3 separate regions of the Homo sapiens genome follow, and all the other regions are reported to be linked to region 2. The links are microRNA targets in miRTarBase. Many come from high-throughput screens and were not tested one by one. Region 2 holds a microRNA gene; each other region holds the end of a gene's coding sequence.

What was found. Region 2 holds the annotated microRNA hsa-miR-4428 (CAAGGAGACGGGAACAUGGAGC, at 2,210-2,231, shown strand). A microRNA usually pairs through its seed, bases 2 to 8, with sites in the 3' UTR of a target mRNA and lowers its output. Matches are read on the target gene's strand: a 7mer-m8 pairs with bases 2 to 8, a 7mer-A1 pairs with bases 2 to 7 and ends in A, and an 8mer does both.
Region 1: miRTarBase lists METTL22 as a target of hsa-miR-4428. Seed matches in the 3' UTR shown: 7mer-m8 at 1,642-1,648.
Region 3: the mRNA of TTLL9 is a reported target of hsa-miR-4428. Seed matches in the 3' UTR shown: 7mer-m8 at 1,050-1,056 and 7mer-m8 at 1,898-1,904.

Annotation. Positions count from the first base shown.
Region 1 is chr16:8,645,321-8,649,660 of GRCh38, forward strand. It overlaps METTL22 (methyltransferase 22, Kin17 lysine), which reads left to right. Exons shown (of 11, transcript NM_024109.4): 11 at 788-4,334. The coding sequence ends at 823. Among named protein-coding and RNA genes, the nearest start is that of METTL22, 26 kb to the left of the region's middle.
Region 2 is chr1:237,468,955-237,473,294 of GRCh38, forward strand. It overlaps MIR4428 (microRNA 4428), which reads left to right and starts at 2,165; the gene lies at 2,165-2,237. RYR2 (ryanodine receptor 2) reads left to right here. Exons shown (of 105, transcript NM_001035.3): 17 at 138-233.
Region 3 is chr20:31,942,541-31,946,540 of GRCh38, forward strand. It overlaps TTLL9 (tubulin tyrosine ligase like 9), which reads left to right. Exons shown (of 15, transcript NM_001008409.5): 15 at 405-2,460. The coding sequence ends at 481. PDRG1 (p53 and DNA damage regulated 1) reads right to left here. Exons shown (of 5, transcript NM_030815.3): 4 at 3,956-4,000; 5 at 1,797-3,349. The coding sequence ends at 3,267. Among named protein-coding and RNA genes, the nearest start is that of PDRG1, 7.5 kb to the right of the region's middle.

The DNA of each region.
Region 1 (4,340 bases), not on the chromosome of region 2:
CGCGTCCTGAGGGAGGGCAGCATGGAATTCGTGTGGTTTTGTGTGCGAGGAGGATCTTGTATTTATTGCTCTGCCACTTCTGGGCAGCATTAAGAGTAGCGTCACATGACCAAGAACACACATTTCTTACAAGTCAGCAGCCCCAATACATGATGCCTAAGACGTCCCAAAAAGGCCAGGTACGGTGGCTCCCACCTGTAATCCCAGCACTCTGGGAGGCCATGGTCGGAGGGTTGCTTGAAGCTAGGAGTTCGAGACCAGCCTGGGCATCACAGACCCTATCTCGACAAAAATCAAGAAAAAAAATTAGCCATGCATGGTGGTGCACACCTGTGGTCCCAGCTACTCTGGAAGCTGAGGTGGGAGGATTGCTTGAGCCCAGAAGTTCAAGGCTGCAGCAAGCTGTGATGGTGCCACTGCACTCCAGACTGGGCAACAGAATGAGATCCTGTCTCTAAAATAAAATTGTTTATAAAGATCTCCCCCAAAATGGAGAGATACGGCAACTCACTGCTATTCTGGTCTCTTCTGATTGTTTGACATCCTCTGATGCACCTTCCGTTAATGCTGGGACTTCATCCATCCAGCCTCTCTGCCACAGTAAAATAGAACAGCCCAGAGCAACAAAGAAAGGAGGAAGCCGCCCGTCCGCTCCTGCCCCAGCTCGCCTGCTCCGTGGCTGACGTGTTGTCTAACTACTCTCCTTGGTGAATCACTTTCCTTAATGAAATTGTGATGCTCTTGTATGTGCACTTCAGAAACCTGTTCTTTTCTCTGTTTGCTGCAGGAGCTCTGGAAGATCATCGCAGAACCAGTAACATGACCCATCGCCTCCACAAGGCGCGGCGTCTCGACTGTTCTTAGAGTGTATTTCTAGTAAAATCAGAAGCTCACCAAAGCAACATGCTTGAGATTTTGTCATTTTAAAAATATGGTTACACGTACCTTAGATGACCCAAGATGGTTTTCTGGGGTCTGTCCCTGCCTCCCAGTTGTAGCCAGAGAAGGTTGTTGCTGTGGGCTGGAGGTCACTTTAGTTGCCTGTTTCTCATGGTTGTGATGTGTGCTCCAGGGTCAAGCCGAGCCACGTTCCTTCTCAGCTCAGTTCCACCCACGTCAGTCATTTCAGCTGTGTGCTTTACTTGCGGTTGCGGCCCTGGCTGTGAGGTGGATTCTTGTACTGCCCTCTGTCAGCTGTTTACAGATGGGTTGACTACCACTGCCAGTATTGCCATCATATTGCCGCTCGGCACAAAAGCCTCATTTCCTCCCAGGGTTGGGTATGCTCCACCCCATCACTCTGGTGAGGGCCCCATGAGAAGGAAGAGGCAGGAGCTGGCGCCAGGAATGGACTGGCATTGGCCTTTGTATTTAATTTTAACTCTTTATCACCCAAATCAGGTACGTTTGGAATAAACCTAAGAGCCACTCTTTGGGGTCATGTGCAGCTGACCAGGGTTTGTGCAGTGATCTTCCTCAGAGGTGTTCCCTTCCGCCTGGACTCATTTTCCCTCCGCCCCTTGGTCTCTCTGTCTTATCACGTGTGTACATGTCTGTCTGTCTGGTTTTTTATCTTCTCCATCTGTGCCTCTCTCCTCCCATCTCCACCCCTTCCTGTCATCCTCTATGTCCCACTGTCTCTCTCCTTCTCTCCAGTTTTGGTCCCATCTTCCTGCTACCCTTGGCCCTCCCTGCAGCCCCTTTCCCCTGCCTTGCTGCTGCCGCACACTTTGCACCAGGGCCTTTCATGGCCCCTTTCCGCCTCCCTTGCAGCTCAGGTTTCCTGGCTTCTCCATGCACTGTCCCTGCCCACACTCGCTTCTCCCCAAGCTCCCAGGTTCCATCCCTAGGCCCATCATACCCCTGGCATTGGCTAATCCCTCATGCCAGGGGCCAGGCACTTGCAAGTCTAACTTCATCTTCCCAACAAATTTAGGAGGTCCGCAGCCTTGTGATACCCACATTACAGCGGAGAAGACTGAGGTCCAAAAAGGAAAAAGTCTCCATGAGGTCAGGGACCTTGTTTGTCTTAAATATCACTACATCCCTGCTGTATGGTCTGGCAAACAGTAGATGCTCAACACATATTGTTGAATGAATTGCTAATGTAAGTTACTAATTAGGTCATTATTTCCTATTTGTGAGTGATTTTGCCTCCAGGAACATTTGGCAGTGCCTGGAGACATTTTCGGTGGTCACAAGTAGGGGAGACGGGTGCCACCAGTATCCAGTGGGTGAGGCCAGAGATGCTGCTGAACGTTCTATAATGCGGTAATCACGGAGCATCCCCCACAACACAAAATGATCCAGCCCAAAATGTGAGTAGCGCCGAGGCGGAGAAATCCTGACTTGGAAGAAGAAAGCCAAGTACTTTAGAGAAGAAAAACGGTCTCAGCTGAACCTGTAGTGAGAGCATGCAGGAGAGTGACCTCACCCTGCCCCTCTGGGAGCAAGAAGAAAACCTATGCATGTACGTTATTATAAATCTTCAAAGAACCTAAAAGGCAGAAGTGATCCCTATTTTGCACATGAGAAATCCAAAATTCAGAGAGGTTCAGCAACTTGCCCAACATCACACAGCAACCAAGGGCAGAGTCAGGTTTAGAGCCCATGTCCACCCATGTCCATCTGACTCCTGAGCCTGTGCTTTTCCCACATTCCCGCTGGAGCAGCAGCAGCATCTGTGGCATCACGTGGATGCTGGTTAGAAATGCAACATCAGGCTGAGCATGTTGGCTCACTCCTGCAATCCCGATACTTTGGGAGGCCAAGGCAGGAGGATCAATTAAGGCCAGGAGTTCAACCAGCCTGGACAACAAAGCAAGACCCCATCTCTATTAAAAATTAAACAGCCAATTAGTCTGGCATGGTGGTTTGCGCCTGCAGTCCCAGCTACTTGGGAGGCCGAGGCAGGAGAATCGCTTGAACCTGGGAGGCGAAGGTTGCAGTGAGCCAAGATCGCAACACTGCCCTCCAGCCTGGGCAACAGAGCCAGACATCTCAAAAATTAAAAAGCCAGGCGAGGTGCCGGGCATGGTGGCTCATGCCTGTCATCCCAGCACTTTGGGAGGCCGAGGCGGGTGGATCACCCAAAGTCAGGAGTTCAAGACCAGCCTGGCCAACATGGTGAAACCCTGCCTCTACTAAAAATACAAAATTAGCCGGGTGTGGTGGCTCATGCCTGTAATCCCAGCTACTTGGGAGGCTGAGGCAGGAGAATCACTTGAACCCAGGAGGCAGAGGTTGCAGTGAGCCAAGACCATGCCATTGCACTCTAGCCTGGGCAACAAGAGCAAAACTCCATCTCAAAAAAAAAAAAAAGCCAGGCGTAGTGGCTAACGCCTGTAGTCCCAACTACTCAGAAGGCAAGGTGAGAGGATTGCTTGAGCCTAAGAATTTGAGGCTGCAGTGAGCCATGACTGCACCATTGCACTCTGGCCTGGGCAACAGAGAGAGATCCTGTCTCCAAAAAAGAAGAAAAGTATCAAGCCTCAGCTCAGGACGTGATTCCGAATCTGCATCTCAACGAGACCCTGGGTGATTTGTGTGCACAGTAGTTTGAGAAGCTCTGGGGCCTACCACATAGCCCTCAACCTATTGCTGTTTTCTAAAATTCCTACACAAACTCCGTTCCTGACAGACTTGCCATAATGGAGCAGCATTGCAGATCACTACAGGGAATATTAATAATGAGTCTTCAAATCAGAACCCCACTAGACAGAGCCAACAACTGGCAGTACGTCAGCACTAATGGTGACAATTTCCTAGCACTCCTGGGTACAAGTCCATAAATGTAATTGGCACCAAGCAATAGAGTTGTCACAGCTTTCACCTGCCGCATTAGGGCAAACTGCTTTTATGTCTAAACCACTGGGCCTGAAAGCTTCCTCTAAGTAGAGCCTGGAATTAATCTTGATCCACTGTAATTCAAAGTATCGTCAGATTTTCATTTCCCAGAGTGGGAGCGCGCCCCCATTGCCATGTTTTATGGCCTTGTTTGAGCCTCTACAAGTGCTTGTTTGGCAGCGATATTCAGAATCACCAAACCATGGGGATGTTCTGCTAGGTAATTAGCCCAGGCCAGTGGACTCAATTTTTTTATAACATTTTCAGAAAAATATGTGACCCAAGGAGGGGACTTGGCTGTTCAGCTGCAGCCTGCATGGGAAAGAACTGTTAAAACCAACAAAGCCAGGCACAGTGGCTCACACCTGTAATTCCAGCATTTTGGGAGGCCGAGGTGGGTGGATCACCTAAGGTCAGGAGTTCGAGACCAGCCTGGCCAACATGGTGAAACCCCGTCTCTACTAAAAATACAAAAAAAAAAAAAAAAATTAGCT
Region 2 (4,340 bases):
TGTATGTTTGCATAAGTTTTTAGATGTAACAGAGGATATTTTGTTCTTGATCCAATATTTTAGGGCTGCATATTAGCTTATCTCAATTTTCGAGCTAGAAAATCACATAAAGGTGAAATCTATTTCTTCTTTTGCAGCGGCTCTAATTAGAGGAAATCGTAAAAACTGTGCTCAATTTTCTGGCTCCCTCGACTGGTTGATCAGCAGATTGGAAAGACTGGAAGCTTCTTCAGGTATGTTTTCTAGTTTTTTCCTTGTTGTGATAGATCACTCCTATTTTTCTTTGCTTCGTATCCTTTAAGACAAAAAAAAAAAAAAAAAAAAACAACTTTGAGTGAGGTGTGGTGGTGTGTACTGAGTCCCAGATACTCAGGAGGCTGAGGTAGGAGGATCACTTGAGGCTAGGAGTTTGAGGCTGTAGTGCACTATGGTCACTGCACTCCAACATGGACAATATATTGAGACCCCATCTTTAAAAAACAAAAAGAAAAAACTCTGATGTTTGGTGTAATATAAGTGTTTTCCTTTTAAATTATGTTAAGTATTTTTATTTCTTGAAAAATCATTAGTATTTTCATTAGTCATTTCTGAATAGTCATCTAACAATATCATGTCCATTTATATCTTAAAAAACCTATTTATAAAGCCCTGAAAACCACTAAAGAGCCAGAATTCTCATTCTTTTTCAAATTGATTACTGCTAGTCTATTCTATAAATAAGAAGATCAGTTTGGAGTTCTCATTGTTTTCCTTGTATTCAAAAGATTATTTGGATAGATTGGGGAGACAGTTCATTTTCCAAATCCTAGAGTGTAATATTTTATTTAAAGGAAATTTAGTAAATACTAACAAATGGTCTGTATAATAGTAAAATATTTATAGGCAGTCAACCCGATACACACATCTCTAATAAGATGTTAGTTTTATTTCAGTATTGTGGAGACTTATCAATGACTGTGAAGACTTATCAGTGATTTTGGACTTACCAGTATTAAATCAGTTATTTGAACTTGTTAGAGCTCTCTAGCTCACACATAATTGACCTCTCTAGTGCCATAGATTGCCTCAGTGACACCCAAATGAATCTACTGCTCTTCCATCTGTTTGCACAGTATTTCATTATTTGCCTTTCTTTATCACTAATGCCCTCTTATGTTACTTATTTTTCCTCTCAGTTTCCTTCATTAGTAATGAACTTCTTGAAGATAGGGGCATGGTTTCATTCATCTTTGTTCTTTCCGGATCTACCATACCATCTGGCACCTATAGGTGTCTAGTATTGTTTGTTGAATGAATGGATGGATGAACATTAAAATTCACTCAAAAAATACCACTGTCCATACAAAATAGTTCTGAGACTTTTGCATGATAAAGACCCACTCAGGGACAGGTTTGTTGGAATTGAATAGAGACAGAGAAACAACCATGATCAGAGAGAGTAATTTTAAGTCACAGAGAAAAATTTGTAGAGTTTAGATAGTGGAGGACAAAAATGTGTAGAGTTTAGATAGTGGAGGACAAAAATTTGAGTCATAGTGAGTTCTTGGGCACTGCTAGATCGTTGGGCAGCAGAAGTAAGATAGAAATGGAGATTGTTGTAATAAAAACAAAAATAATTATGAGATGAGGGTGTTAAGAGTATCATAACATGAATGTAGTGACTGTGCATTAATTGCAGAATATATTAAGGAAAAACCTGTAACTTCTAGCATAAAGAAGTGACCAAATAAGTGGTACTGAAGCAAAGTCATTGTCTGGGGTAAATACCTGAGATTCATTGTCTTGCACCAAGAAAATTAAGGACATGGACACACACACAAGGAGTGAGTTTAGGAGCAGAGGTTTAATAAGCAAAAGAAAGAGAAAGGAGAACAGCTGTCTCAAAGAGAGAGAGGGAGAGATAGGGAAAGAGAGAGGAAGAGATAGGGGCAGAGAGGAGAGACAGAGAGAGAGGAAAGAGAGAGAGAGAGAGACAGAGAGAGATCACGATTGAGAAATCTGGCCTGCACCAGAGTGCACCAGATTTTATAGGCAGGCTTGAGGAAGCAGTGTCTGATTTGCATAGGGCCCAAAGATTGGTTGGACTCGGTATGACATTTGCATAGGAAGGCTGGCCAGGAAGGCTGGCTGCTCCACCCTAATCTTATGCAAACAGGCTTTCCACTTGGCAGGTGCCATGTTGCCTGCTCCTTACTGTACACGTGGCTGGCAAGGAGACGGGAACATGGAGCCGCCATTTTGAACATGCCTAGTCCCAGGTGGTCTTTTCCTATTGGCACAACTGCTGGCATTCACCCGTGGAAGCTTCCAACTTGCTTCTCTATGTCTGCAGCTCGATTTTGCAGGCTGCTCTTTGTTAGAAAAGAACATGATTTTGGGACTGCTCTTCATTAAAAGGTAAACCTTACCAAGGACTCCTGTACCCTCACTATCTGCCTAAATAATTTCTCCTTAACTCCTGTATCAGTAACAAGATGGTGGCATAGATTACAAAAATGGATAAATGTTTAGGGCCAAGTGTCCAGAATCACTGGAAAGCTACAGAAGACATTTAAAAAATGCTCATGTCTTCTGCTGGACCCAGTGGTATCTGTAAAGAGATAGGTGCAGGGCAGCCTCAGAGCAGAGTGTTAACACTGGCTGAATCAACTGCACAGCGAAATGCTTAACTGGAAAACAGAGAGAGAAAAGACATGAACAGAGCCAAGCATCCTTTAAGGTCAACCAAGTACAGTCCAGTGTTTTCAGAGTCTTCAGTTTTGTCAGTTACAGGCACAGTTTCATCAGATACAAATTATTATTTGCTGTTGTCTTTTTCCAGTCAATCTGTTGATTGCAGGCATTCCTAATGAAAAGGGAAGCCCTGTGCTCAGAGATAACATAATGAAAGTCAAGGGAAAGAAGGACCCTTAGAGTATATTTAATCTAACATTCTTACTTTAGAGGAAAAGAAACTGAGGCAAAGAACATTTAAATGACTGACTCAAAATCTTAGAAAAATTATTGTTACTGCCAAGGTTAAAACTCAGCTCCCTAGCATCAGACTTGCAATATGACCATGATACTTTGTAGCTCTTGTTTTTTAAGTATCTAAAATATATTTTGCTGAACAATTTTTTCTACTGTAGTTAACATTTATGCTTTTAATGAACTGTTTTTTCTCCAGAGGAAGTGGTGTTGCTTAGTTTTTAGAGGCAGTAACAATGATGAGATGCACATGTGTATGTATATAACTTATTTCAATTGTGCTTTGCTCTTTACAAAGTGCATACATATGCATCATTTTTTTCCTCTCTGTAATAAGTCTGACGTTGCTGAACACACACTCTCCTCATCTCGTTAGTGCCCTAGCTGCAGATTCAAACTGAAGAATTCTTGAGTAGAAAAGGGATCAAAAGTAGGGTTAATTGTCTTCCTGGGATCTAGACCATTCTAGTCTTTACTGCCTTGGCAGGTCCCCAGTGCCTTGGTTGTTTTGGTTGATGGCTGGCCTGAAACACCTCGTTTACCATTGCCAGATGCAGAACAATGCCTAGGATTGCCTTAAAAAACAACATTGGAAATGAAGTGATGAATCATAGGTGAATAGTTAAATTATATTACAACAACATTTTCAGCTATATTATAGGTATTGCAAAGAATTGTTTAGATGTATATCCTGAAATAGATTTAGAATATATTTTTAAGTGAAAATTCATTTTTAGAATGTGTGATAGGATATATTTTTGTAAAAAAAAAAAAGTGAAGATGAAAGTAGAAAGAAATAAATGAAAAGAGGAAAGAAGGGGCAAAAACCCTGTGTAATATGTATATATGTCTTTGCACGCATAGGCTGTAGAAATATGTACACCGCTGTTTACTTTGGTGACCAAGGAGTTCAAATTAGAGGAAAGAAAAAGAGTAAAACACTGGGTTCTCTAGGACAGGGAATTGCTTGTCAAAACTTGTGATAAATAGCAAATGGGAAGTCATTAGACCCAAAGGATAGAGAAGAAAGGGTCTAATGAACAGTAACACCAATTATTTTTTCCACCTTGCTTTTACTTTTTTTTTTAAATTGCTTTTTCCATTATTCTTTACATTCTACCACTAATTTAGTGGCAGGGACAATAGTGTTATCTACCCGATAGGGCTGTTAGGGGGATTAAATGATTAATATTTGTAAAGTACATAAAAAAGTATTTGGTGGGCGGGTGTGGTGGCTCACACCTGTAATCCCAGCACTTTGGGAGGCTGAGGTGGGCAAATCAGCTGAGGTCAGGAGTTTGAAACCAGCCTGGCCAACATGATGAAACCCTGTCTCTACTAAAAATACAAAAATTAGCAAGGCATGGTGGCAG
Region 3 (4,000 bases), not on the chromosome of region 2:
GTTAAGAGTGTGGCTCTGGCACCAGGTAGTCTGGGTTCAAATGATTTAACCTCTCTGAGCCTGTTTTCCCTTCTACACATCATTCCTGCGAGGGCCAAACAAATCCATCCACATTCAGCATCTGGAGCAGTTCCTGGCTTGAGGTAAGCCCCCAGTCCTCATGTTCACTCCATAAGGTGGGCAGTAGTATCCTGGTTTACAGATGAGAAGACCGATGCTGAAAAGGGTAACTGACCTGCTTGAGGGCCATGGCAGTTTAGGAATGGAGCCAGGATATAAACCACAGGCTGTGTGTGGTTGTCTGACTCCCGCTGTCCCCTCTTCCCAGCAGGGAGTTGGGGCACAGGCCCCTCCACTCCTCCCAAGCATAGGTCATCCCAGCCAACACCCCACTTCCTTTCCAGGCTGCGTCAACGATCGGAAGAAACAACTGAGGCAGCTCTTCTGCTCCCTTCAAGTTCAGAAGAAAGCTTCCAGTTGATCCCCAGCTGCCAGGAGGAAATCAGCCTTAGCAGGTGCCACCCAGGCCTCCCCCCCACTCCCAGATCCCAGCACAGCACCTCACAGCATTCGCCTCCCCACCTCCAGCCTGGCACCAGCTTTGCTGGCTTAGCAGCTGCAGCTTACTACCTGAATTGGGCCCCTTGGATACCTCCAGCCCATCCCCAGGCATCTTTGCACCAGGAGACAGCCAATCACTGGGACTGGGGGAGGTTTAACCTTGACAAACTGACTTGGCAGTTAGGCCCAAAGAGAACAAATACAGCAAGTTCTGCTACCCCCAGGAGATCATATCTAATAAATGAGCACAGGCCCTACTTGGAGTCACTGGGCACCAGGCCTGGTTCCGGGGATACTGTTGGCTGCAGCCAAGTCCTCCTGGCTTTGACACTTGGATACCTCCCAAGTCAGTGCTGAAAAGGTCCTTCAGGAGCAAGAGTTTGGAGGCTAAGGAACTCGTCTTTAAGCTGTGCTTACACAGCAAGCAGTTATTAGATTGTGTGTTTATTGGGGGCCTGGGGAAGTACTGAGCCCTAAACACATCCTCTTCTCCTTGCATGTCAGGGGAGCCCATGGGGCTCCCTGACCATCATCTGAAAACCAGTGGGACAGGGCATCCCCATTTCTCAGATGGACAAGACAGACCAGGGAGGCAGAGCTTAGTGAGGGTCTCTGCAAAGGTGCATTTATCTAAGTCAGATGGGTGACTTAAGTGCTTCTCTAGGCCTTGTGTTTGAGATTGGGAGCTGAGCCAGAAACCGGAAAACCCTGGGCTCATGGGCAGGACAGCTTCGGGAGTTGAGTGTGAGTAAAAATCTGCCTTTTCACATCTTACATTGCTAAGCTTCCTCTTGGTTTAAGAGGGGTTGCAACAAGACTCGGGGCTGTTGGGGTAACTGTTCCAGGGGGGACTTACTCCCTCTACCACTCCGCCTGCTTCAGAGTAGTTTCTCTGGCTGCAAATGGTTGAATCTGCCTGCCTAGGTCAAGCCCGAAGGGAAGACTTTTGGAAGGAAAATACTGGCAAATCCAAGAAGTGAACCAGCCGACTTTAGGAAAGCCAGAAGCCAGGCTACTCTAGACCTTCTGCCTTCAGAGCATGAGGACTTCTCCCACTCATCCCTGTACCTGAGGCACACCAACCCAGACAGGTCCAGGCATGGACTCCAGGTTCCCTATTTCCAGAAGGAATGCGATTAGCTTTTTTTGGCCCAGCACCCACCCTGCCAGGGAGGAAGGGGCAATTTTCCAGTGATGAAATTGTGAATCAGGCAGTCACACTGGACAACATCTAGCAAGGTGAATTCTGCAACTCCCTACTTTATTTACATTTTAAAATAAGCAATATATTCATACGGTTTAAAATCCAAAGTTTACAAAAGGGTATAGGGTGACATCTCCTTCCCTCCCACCTGTGCGCCCCAACCCTGCAGGTGCTGTTCTGAGGGAATCACACTGTGCTTGCACAAAAATTATTAGCTTATAAGACACCAGCCTTCCCCTTGCTTTCCTCACTTGATGTATCTTGGAGCTTGTTCCTTATTCTTGATTATAGTTGTATGGTATTGCACTATCTGGAGCTAACACCTGTGACCCACACTCATGTTTTAAAAGTTTCTGCATTAGTCAAAAATATTTAAAAGGAGATTCAACTTCACAACCCATATGTCTAGCTTCTCTTGAAAACACGTAAGAACTGGCCATGACAGCCTGTGTTTCTATGTAACTATGAGCCAGAGCCAAGGAGCGGGGGGACCAGGAGAGGTGTGCCCCTGCCATGCTGCCATTTGTTATCACCCGCCTGTCAAATCACAGGTTTATTTCAAGGCAAGAACCATGTTCATAGGTTGTATTCTAAATGGAGTGGCGTGCCCTTACTGAAGGACTAGATGAGGCAAATAAAGACTAGTTGCTGCTATTCATTCATTCAGCTAACATTTATTGAGCCCTTAATGAACACATAAGAGTTTTGACTTCACGGCAGTTCATACTGGGACCTCAGACCACTGAAGGCAGACAGTAACGAGCAGTGCTGGCCGGGCCCCACTTTCAGAGGGGGCGGAAGGGCATCTTGACACGTGTCATATGGTAAGAGGCGCATCCACTCACCCAGGCCTGGTGCAGGACTCTGCAAGGCCCTCCTGAGTAAAGAGTGGCCACGAAGGGCTGCTAGGCAGCACCTACTCTTGGAATCAAGCAGGGAAAAAGTGCAAAATTGGAGCTGGCGGGAGGTGTGTGTGCCTGCCCCACAGATGGCTGTGGTGAGCCACAAAGCACCAAGATTCTGTTCTTCATTCAGCAACCACCCATGAGCCTCCTGCTTTATTCCAATCGCATGGCACCAGCCTGAAAACCTCTCTCCCTTCTGAGAGGAATGCTGGAATGACACTCCACTCTGCCCCTCCCTCCCTCCTTCCTTGCTCAGGGTCCATGTGAACAGCAGGCCATTGTTGGGAAGTGCCTGTTGCAGTCATTCTTACACCCCCACAGCCACTGCCCCACACACCCACTGGTGGCTACCAAGGCCCGTCAATAGATCTTGTGTCCACCGAGCCCTGGTGTCCAGGTCCAGCAGCCAGACAGGCTGAAGGTTCCCTCCTGCCATCACAGAGTAGCCAAGCACTACAAAGAGGTTTTCATGGCCAGATTCCTGACGGCTGGCCCCTTACAGGGCAGATCCTGTCCTTACAGGTGTCAAGGTTGGAGGGTCCTGGGTCCTCCATGACCCTGGGGGGTTGCTGGTCCCCCATCTTGGTTCTTGAGTCTCATCCTTTCAAGATGACCTTGAGAGCTTTAAGCTCATCCTGGTTGAGGGGGTTCAAGTTAAAACCCTTCAGCTCCGGTTTGCCTAGGAGAGAAGATGATCCATCAGCACGTCGGGCCTCCTGCTGGCTCTGGAGCCAGGCCCAGGAAAGGGGCTGACGCTGCACTAATGCTGCCAAACTCAGCCTGGAGGTCTGGCAGGGATGGGCCTCCAATTCTGCAATGCACCAGATGAGGCATCACCACTGCTCCTGTGTCACCAAGAGCCTGCAAACGCGTAACTCTGCTGCCCAAAGAACCTCAGGTTTTTCCAAGACCTGTGACCAATCTAGAGTGCTTGCATTTATCAAGAATTTCAGCTCTGACCTCACTCACTCACTGAAGCCTTCTGAGTTTCCTCAGTCAGAGCTATCTGATCCCCATGCCATGCCCCGATGTATAACGTGAGATCACCCCAAGCGGTTCCTGGGACCTGGAAAAGAAACTATGACAGGACTAGGACTGTAGAAGTCCCCCTGTCCATTCTGTCCCTGGGCAGCTACAACCAACCACTGTGCACACCTCCAGGGCCACTCACAGGCTGCCCCGGACACTGCCCATCTCTGAGGGTCGGACTTCCCATCCCTGCCCTTCAAAGTCCATGCTGATGATTCCCTCCCCTTCTTATCTCCAGTCCCTGCTAAGCCAATACCTTGGGCCTCAAAAAGGCGGTTGACCTTCACTTTAAGTTGCTTCC